2 separate regions of the Homo sapiens genome follow, and region 1 is linked to region 2. Evidence: fine-mapped expression QTL. A gene starts in region 2. The other region holds a variant in brackets. All regions are shown on one strand. Distances are from middle to middle. Region 1 has its middle 53 kb from the start of DDX3X. Region 2 holds the start of DDX3X (DEAD-box helicase 3 X-linked).

The links. PIP is the estimated chance that this variant, and not a neighbour inherited with it, causes the effect.
Region 1: its variant is fine-mapped to the expression of DDX3X in whole blood (TOPMed, PIP 0.98).

Annotation. Positions count from the first base shown.
Region 1 is chrX:41,385,236-41,389,622 of GRCh38, reverse strand. No RefSeq gene overlaps it. Among named protein-coding and RNA genes, the nearest start is that of DDX3X, 53 kb to the right of the region's middle. RefSeq lists an enhancer at 3,603-4,120. The variant G/A (reference allele first, on the strand shown) is at 1,849.
Region 2 is chrX:41,332,313-41,336,699 of GRCh38, reverse strand. DDX3X (DEAD-box helicase 3 X-linked) reads right to left here and starts at 2,538. Exons shown (of 17, transcript NM_001356.5): 1 at 2,403-2,538. The coding sequence starts at 2,447. RefSeq lists an enhancer at 2,908-3,137 and a silencer at 3,228-3,717.

The sequences.
Region 1 (4,387 bases), 53 kb before region 2:
GTCCCAGATTTGAATCTAGCCAGAGACCTTGGCTTCTGGTTTCTCTTTCAATTTACCCAACTTTCTACCCTTTCTCTGGCCATATGCCCAGAAGAGTGACCTTGGGACCCACTGCCACACCTCTCCTGGTCCTGCCTCCATGTTTCTGCCTACAAGTCCTGGGAACCGGAAGGGACGACTTTTGGGCTTTCAGTTTCTGCAGGTCATATCCTCCTACTAAAAGGCAACAAGTCTCACGGCTTGACTGAGGTTGGCATAGGGGTATCTTCTTTCTCTCATGGAAGAGACATTGTGATCTGAGATCTTTAGGATTTATATTTAATTTGCTCAAGAACTTTGGAAAAACCTTCCCTGCTCCCAAGCAGATGGCTACAGGCTGCCCAGGGAAAAGGTCGTCTGTATGGAAATACAAGAGAGGAAAGCACATTTGCATTCTTCTTAGTGTTTCTGCTGTTCCACATGGATTTTCTCGGTTACTGTCAGGACAACCTAGGAGGTAGTCACTACTGTTCTTTAATTTTTACAACTGGGAAGATTAAAGCACAGAAAGATCACATAGCCCATGCCTGTAGTGCCAGCTACTCAGGAGGCTGAGGTGGGAGGATGGCTTGAGCCCCGGAGGTGGAGATAGCAGTGACCCGAAATTGCGCCACTGCACTCCAGCCTGGGTAATAGAGCAAGATCTAGTCACAAAAAATAAAATAAAAAATAAAATAAAATAAAGGAAAAGAAAAGAAAAAGAAAAAAGAAATTGAAGATAACATCTTGATATATGTCCCTGAGTTGTTTTTCGGAACCTCGGGCCCCCATCACAAGGATCAGCTGGCATGTAAACCTCAGATAACGGGGAACTGAAGGTTGAACTCTGACCTCTGCTCTAAATTTCTTTTTGAGGGGCCCAGAGGAGGTCATGTCCACAAGCAAGAGTGAACATTCCTTTCTGTTGATCTCAAAGTTTTAGACAAAGCTTCACCTCCTTAACTAATCGTTAATCAGAAAATCTCTGAATCCTGGCTGGGCCCGGTGGCTCACGCCTATAATCCTAGCACTTTGGGAGGCCGAGGCGGGCAGATCACTTGAGGTCAGGAGTTCGAGACCAGCCTGGCCAACATGGTGAAACCTCCGTCTCTACTAAAAATACAAAAATTAGACAGGCATGATGGCGCGGACCTGTAATCCCAGCTGCTCGGGAGGTTGAGGCACGAGAATCACTTGAACCCGGGAGGCGGAGGTTGCAGTGAGCCGAGAACGTGCCACTGCACTCTAGCCTGGGCAACAGACGGAGACTCTGTATCAAAAAAAAAAAAAAAAAAAAAAAAAAGAAAATCTCTGAATCCACCTACGACCTGTGCCCCCACCCCCACAATCCCGGGACTTGAGGATGTCCTGCCTTGATTTATGACTTTGCCTGTAACCTCTACCTCTTTGCCTTTAAAAACCCTTACCTGTAAGTCATCATGGAGTTCCAGTCTCAAGCATTAGCTGGCCAATTCTCCTGGCTTGGTGTCCTGCAATAAATGTCTCACTTTCGCTGCTATCCCGATGTCAGTGTTTGGCTTTGCTGCTCCAGGCAAGTGGGCCCTAGTTTGGTTCACTAATGTGACCATGTAATCTGGTGCCAGTTTCCTCTTTAGACTGTAAATTGGATCTTCTCTCTCCAGTTCCCTGTCAAGGCTTTGGCCTAGACCCTCATCATTTCATTTCTGGATTCCTGCCCCAGTTTCTCAATCAGCCTTTTATTGCTAGTCATTGCTTCTGAGACATTTTTCCATAAATGCCAGGCTATTCCTTCTCAAACTCTACTTTCTTCATGTCGTCGCAATGGCCTTTGGCTCCATATCCCCTGCC[G/A]CAATGCTCCTGGATTTTTGTTTTTTATTTTTTATTTATCTTTTTAGTTTTTTGAGACGGAGTCTAGCTCTGTCTCCCAGGCTGGAGTGCAATGGCACCGTCTCGGCTCACTGCAACCTCCACCTCCCGGGTTCAAGTGATTCTCCTGCCTCAGCCTCCCAAGTAGCTGGGATTATAGGTGTGAGCCACTGTGCCCGGCCTATTCTGGACATTTTATATAAATGGAATCATACAATATATAATATGTGACCTTTGTATCCATAAACTTAACTAACAGGTCTTCAAGTTTCGCCAGTGTTATGGCATGTATCAATACTTCATTCCTTTTCACTGATGAATCATATTCTACTGTTTGGATATACCACATTTTGTTTATCCATTTGTCACTTGATGGTGTCAACCTAAAAGGAAGAAGCTGGGGCAAAATGAATATACGTAGAGAGTTTATTTGGGCCAAGCTTTAAAATTGTTATCTGAGAGCACAGATTCAGGTTGCCCTGAACATAACATTCTGCCTAGCAGCAGTTACAAGTGGATTTTTTTTTTTTTTTTGGAGACCAAGTTTTGCTCTGTTGCCCAGGCTGGAGTGCAGTGGCGTGATCTCAGCTCACTGCAACCTCCACCTCCCTCCCAGGTTCAAGAGATTCTCCTGACTCAGCCTCCTGAGTAGCTGCGATTACAGGCACACGCCACCATGCCCAGCTAACTTTTGTTTGTTTGTTTGTTTTTAACTTTTGTATTTTGAGTAGAGACGGGGTTTTGCCATGTTTGGCCAGGTTAGTCTGGAAGTCCTGGCCTCAAGTGATCCACCTGCCTAGGCTTCCCAAACTGCTGGGATTACATGCGTGAGCCACCGTGCCAGGCCTACAAGTGGATTTTTAAAGTAAAAATTTGTCTTTATATCACAAATCCCAGGTACATGAAGATAATAGGTGAGCCAGCTAGTCAGGAACAAAGTGACTTTAAACAATTGTCCCCAGGCATGCGGTGGGGGCTGGGGAGATGATGACTGAAGTCCCTATTCATGTCTCTCTGGGCCTGCTCTGAGCTATTTTTCTTTTCTCAGTAGACAATTGGGTTGTTTCCAATTTGGGGCTATTATGAATAATGCTGCTGTGAACACTCGTGTAGGAGTTTTATGCGTACATACGTCTCATTTCTCTTGGGTAGATACCTAGCGTGAAAGAAAAATGGAACTCCAACTCACTATGCCAAAGGGAAAGTTAAGCTTGGGAACTGAGTCATGCAAAAACTGCTTTCCTTTCATTCTCAAACAGATAGCTGTAATTTCACTTGCTTACTTTACCTTATGTAAAATGTAGATTTACTGAGCAGGGGAGGAATGCATAGTTGACTCCCTCCCCTTCCCCTTTCTTTTCACATGTAAAATGTAGATTCACAGTCTCATAAGAATGTAACCAGGTGCCTCATTGCCTACCCACCTTGTTTTTTTTTCTTCCCCTCCTGCTTGCCCTTTCCCCTTTATTTATTTTTTATTTATTTATTGTTATTATTATTTTTTGAGATGGAGTCTTCCTCTGTCGCCCTGGCTGGAGTGCAGTAGTGCAATCTTGGCTCACTGCAACTGCTGCCTCCCAGGTTCAAACAACTCTCGCACCTCAGCCTCCTGAGTAGCTAGAATTACAGGCGTGTACCACCATGACCGTCTAATTTTTGTATTTTTAGTAGAGATGGGGTATCACCATGTTGGCCAGGCTGGTCTTGAACTCCTGACCTCAAGTGATCTGCCAGCCTAGGCCTCCCAAAGTGCTGGGATTACAAGAGTGAGCCACCCACCACGCCTGGCCCTTTCCCCTTTATTTTTCATTTATTTTTATTTTTATTTATTTATTTATTTATTTTTTTGAGACAGGCTCTCATTCTGATGCCCAGGCTGGAATGCAGTGGCATGATCTTGGCTCACTGCAACCTCTACCACCTGTGCTCAGGTGATCCTCCCACCTCAGCCTCCTGAGCAGCTGGGACCACAGGCATGCATCACCACGCCCGGCTAATTTTTTTTTTTTTTTTTTTGGAGACAGAATCTCACTCTGTCACCCAGGCTAGAGTGCAGTGGCGCCATCTTGGCTCACTGCAACCTCCTCCCCCAGGTTCAAGCAACTCTCCTGCCTCAGCCTCCCAAGTAGCTGGGATTACAGGTGTCTGCACCACGCCCAGCTAATTTTTGTATTTTTAGTAGAGACAGGGTTTCACCATCTTGGCCAGGCTGATCTTGAACCCCTGATCTCATGATCCACCCTCCTCGGCCTCCCAAAGTGCTGGGATTACAGGCGTGAGCCACCATGCCCAGCCAATTTTTGTATTTTTAGTAGAGAGGAGGTTTTGCCAAGTTGCCCTGGCTGGTCTTGGACTCCTGGGCTCAAGCGATCCTCCTGCCTTGGCCTCCCAAAGTGCTGGGATTACAGGCCTGAGCCACCACACCCGGCTGTTCTTTCCCCTTTAAATACTGAAGTTCCCAAACCCTCTTTGGAAAAAGCACAGGACACAGATTCTACTGTGACTTGTGTTTTTTTTTCCC
Region 2 (4,387 bases):
TCATGTGATCTCGGCTCACTGCAACCTCCACCTCCCCGAGTAGCTGGGATTACAGGGGTGCGCCACCACGCTAGGCTACTTTTTGTACTTTTAGTAGAGATGGGGTTTCGCCATGTTGCCCAGGCTGGTCTCCTGACCTCAGGTCAGGTGAACCACCTGCCTTGGCCTCCCAAAGCACTGGGATTACAAGCATGAGCCCGGCCTGAAGTAGTTACCTGTTTTTACCCCATTTTAACATAAGTTCAAAGATGACTTTGAATAAATGGCACAACTGGCGTTCAATGCTCTTAAAGAGTAGGACATCTTAGTGCCTTTCATCTCTATTTCTACCTATCCCCTTACACTGGTAGCTCAAAAGCCTCTTCATTCTAGAAAAGGGTTATGTGCTACCTTCATAACGTTTTATAACCAGGAACTACTCACAAGTAGTTGGGAGAAAAAACTATACATGCAAAGTGTTTCATTTTTCTCAAAAAAGCCACAAAAGACCAAGTCACACAGTACCGCTGCCAACCTGTTTGCAAAAGATGCACTACATACCATGTTTATAAATCTTGTGTTTAAAGCTCAGTATGATACGGCCAAACCGCATGCATCATCAATGGAGTCACTGAAAACTGGAAGCAGATGCTATACTTTTAAAAAATGAGTGTAAGACTTCAGGCACCTAATTTCCAGAATTTCTATGAGCAAAAACACCACTGCGCTTTCTCTTGCTACCATCAATACTTTAAAGCACGGTAGGAACACAAACTTTCCTTTTGCACTTGTTATAGCACAATTTTGCTTTTTAAATAAGGTTCACTGTTGCCTAGAATCCTTAAAAGGACACTATAGCTAAATGGAAAATGGTAAAACTGGGAATACTCTGTGCTGCTGGTAGGTTGTTAAAGTGTCTGTTCAATTCAACATGTGTCAGCAATTAGAGGATTTAATATAATTGGTTCATTAACGGGTAGAAAATGCTTCCAAAGGAACAGATCAATTCCTAAAAAATATTACATATGACTACATTAAACTATGTATTCAATTAATTTGTGCCACTAAACTTCGTCTCAGGATTATTCCGGAGTTTGTGAAATCAACGCTCCCCTAATCACAGTAGACAGTAGTTTATTTAAAAGCTCCGCATAACCCACACAAGAGCTTATCTGAAGCCTGGTGCCACTGTTGCGGTGGGATGCAGACTTCCTGCCACCAAAGTCCATAACCTTCTCCTCTCAAATCACACATCTTTCTCTCCTCTGCCCCTAAACCCTTAGAAGAGGGGATTCTGGCTAAGAGAAAAAACCCGGGGGCCTGGGACCCATTGCAAGATTCTACTCCACAGATAGCAACAAGTCAACAACAAAACTGTTTACTTCCCCCCTAAGCCGGGTGTTTTTCCAATGGCGGATTCCTGGATCACAGTCACTAACACGAAGACACTACCACAACCCGCGATGACCCCTCCACCCCAGAAAAACAACGCGGGACTCCCGGCTAACATACCACACAGGGACAATCTGGGGCAAGCAAGGAGGAGAAAGGGCCTCGCTGGCTCCCTAACCTCCCCGCCACGTCCAACCTCTATCTCCAGGGCCCAGCGCGCAGCGGCCAATTCCTGCCTCCCCTCCCCGCCCCCACCCCTCCCCCACTCCTCCCCAATCTTCTGCGTCACAAAACTTTCCACTCCGGAAACGCAGCCTCCCCGGCTGCGGCGCAGGGCCCCCGGACCCTGCGGAACCTGGGCTGAAGCGAAAAAGCCAGCGGAAGGAACCCGGGAAAAAACAAGAAACCCATTCCATCCTCCTTTCCAGGCCTTCGCCCGCCCGAGACCCGCCGTCTCCCGGAGGTGAGCCACAGCGCCGCCCAGCACCACACAAAAGAGGCCGCCGCCATTACCCCGAGCGAAGGCCGCCCCCTCCCACATTCCTGGGCCGCGTTCTACCCCTTGCTCGCAGGCACGCAAACACCGGGTGCCGCCAGGTCCTCCGGACGGGAATCCAGGCTGCGCCAGCCGTGAAGGCCGAAGCCCTCCAAGCCAAAAGGGCCTCCAGTCGCGTCCCGCCGCGCTGCGCACTCCCGCAAACCCCCCCAGGTCACTAATCAGTCGGGATTCGCGCATGCGCGTCCCCGCGAGAGCGCGCGCACTTCCTCCCCCTCCGCCCGCCTGCGCACGCACACACAAAAGCCGCCATTGTGCTCGTCCCGGGGACAATACAGCGGGCCGAGACCGGGCCCGGGCGACAGCCCCAACCAACATTCCTATCCCTCTATAGCCCCGGGGCACTCACACCCGCCAGCCCGGGGCACCCAGAAAATGAAAAGTAAGGGTGCCGGTTAGCGCTGCGCCATTAGCCAGGTTAGGTCAGGGGAGGAATTCACGCAGCAGCCAGCCCGGTGGGGTTCTTGCGGCTCACCTGCTGGTCCAGCCCGAGCGCATTTTCCACTGCCACATGACTCATCCCTGAAGAGTACCGAGAACTCGGAGTCTTCCGCTGCTAAGCGAGTGTTTGTTCCACCGCGAAGGCCCTCTCACGGGAGAACTGCGGCTCTGGAGCGCACCGCGCGGCCACGGATCTAATATACCCGCTGGAAAGCCGGCTACGTCAGCACGTACAACGTGTGCCCTCCCTCTCACACCGCAATTCCCTGTCGCGGCGACTTCTGCCCGGCTACTGCGCGCTCCCTCAGGTCTAAGCTCAAGGGATTTCCTACTTAGTCCTGTCGCCCCTAGCAGTCCTGCCTTGGAGCTTAGGGTGCGAAATGCTGTCCCAGTTCTCTCGAGCTACACTTCCCGTGCTCTCCGCTAAAACCCTAGTCTCAGCCTCGGAGTTCTCGAGATCTCGCGAGAACTTGCGTCTCCCGCTTTCCACCGGCTAAGACGCCTGAAAATGTTAACCTAGGCCTCTTCGCCCCCCTTTCCAACCTTACGCATTCGCTCCCCTTTCCAACTCTATGCACTCAGCTTTCGTTTTTCGTTTTTTTTGTTTTTGTTTTTTTTTTCCTAACACTGGCCTTCACTCTTCTTCCTCTCTCAGTTCCCGGGCTTGGAGATGTGGTGGGATTTCTCCGGTCTAATCTGCCCTCGCTCTTCCGCGGGTAGCCTCCCCTTAGTGGGAGCTAGGCAGATTCCCGAAACTGAGAGGGCGGCAGGCCACGTGACCGTAGGTGTCGCGTGCGGTGGCCATTTTGTGAAGCAGGAAACGGTGGCTTGAATATAGAGTGCTCCGGACGGGGGAGGGGAGGGGAAGAGGAGGAGAGAACAGAGGGAAGGGGAGGAGAGGGAGGGAAAAGAGGGGAGCGGAGTAAGGGGAAAGGAGGAGGGAGGAGGGTAGGATGGTGACCGGGGCGGGAGTCGGGGGGAAATGGAGGGGAGCCGGCGGCGCGCGCAGGTGGCCGGACACCTTCCTGCGCGGTTGCCTAGGCAGCGGGGGCGCCGCCTAGAAACACACAATGGCCCCTCCTGGCCAACCCCCCGACGTGTGCGCGCGCGCCTCCGCCCCCGCCCCCCGCGGTGAGGGAACAATGAGACAGACACGCGCTGATCCGGAACCGCCGCTGGCGCGCCCTCCCGGGACCCCGGCTCTCCGCAGGAATGCGGGCTACATTTGCCCCTAGTTTCCTCCCGCGGGGCGCCCAGCGGCTTAGGGCCGGTGACCACCGGCGTTGCGGGGACCCCGCGGGTGGCGAACGGCTCTTCTAGGGCCCAAGGGTGTCGGGAATGTTTGTAGCCGGTGCAACCTGGGCCTGCCGGAGGGGCTGCAGCGGGGTTACCGGCCTGGGCTCGGGGTGACTCTCAGGCCGCTGCGGTGGATGAGGAACAGGAGGAACCGGGTTTCTACCGTCGGTGGAACCTCTTCCTGTGGTTCCCTCCTAGGCAGGCCACCCCAAGTCCCGGCTTCGGTGCCGCAGGCCCTTAAATAGAAGAAGGTGTTTACTAGTGGATTCCCGGCTTTGAGCCGGCGCCCGCACATCCGTAGTTTCTTATGACCGCTTTCCCCTCTCTTCTGACCCTCAGCCCTACGAAATTAAATAAAACGCAGTGGTTTCCACCACCCCCACAAAAGGTCTTCTGCTGCCAGAATTCAAATAGTTCGTGCTCATCACATAATTTACTATACACATAACTTCTCTCCCTTCTCAATTTTTAAAATCGAGACGGAAATTCGAACGAGATAGGGAGAGAATATCACACTGTCGGGGGCAAGTTGTTTAACGGCTTTGGGTCTCAATTTGCTCATCTATAAAAGGAGTCTGCTACATTCCATAACCCTGTGAAAGACCCAACTCCTTTTCATAACGAGTATTTTCTAACGCCCCCTTTACCTATACTGAAATAACAAAACCTAAATTGTTTATGTAAACCTACAAACACAATTTCAAAAAACATGATCTGTCAACA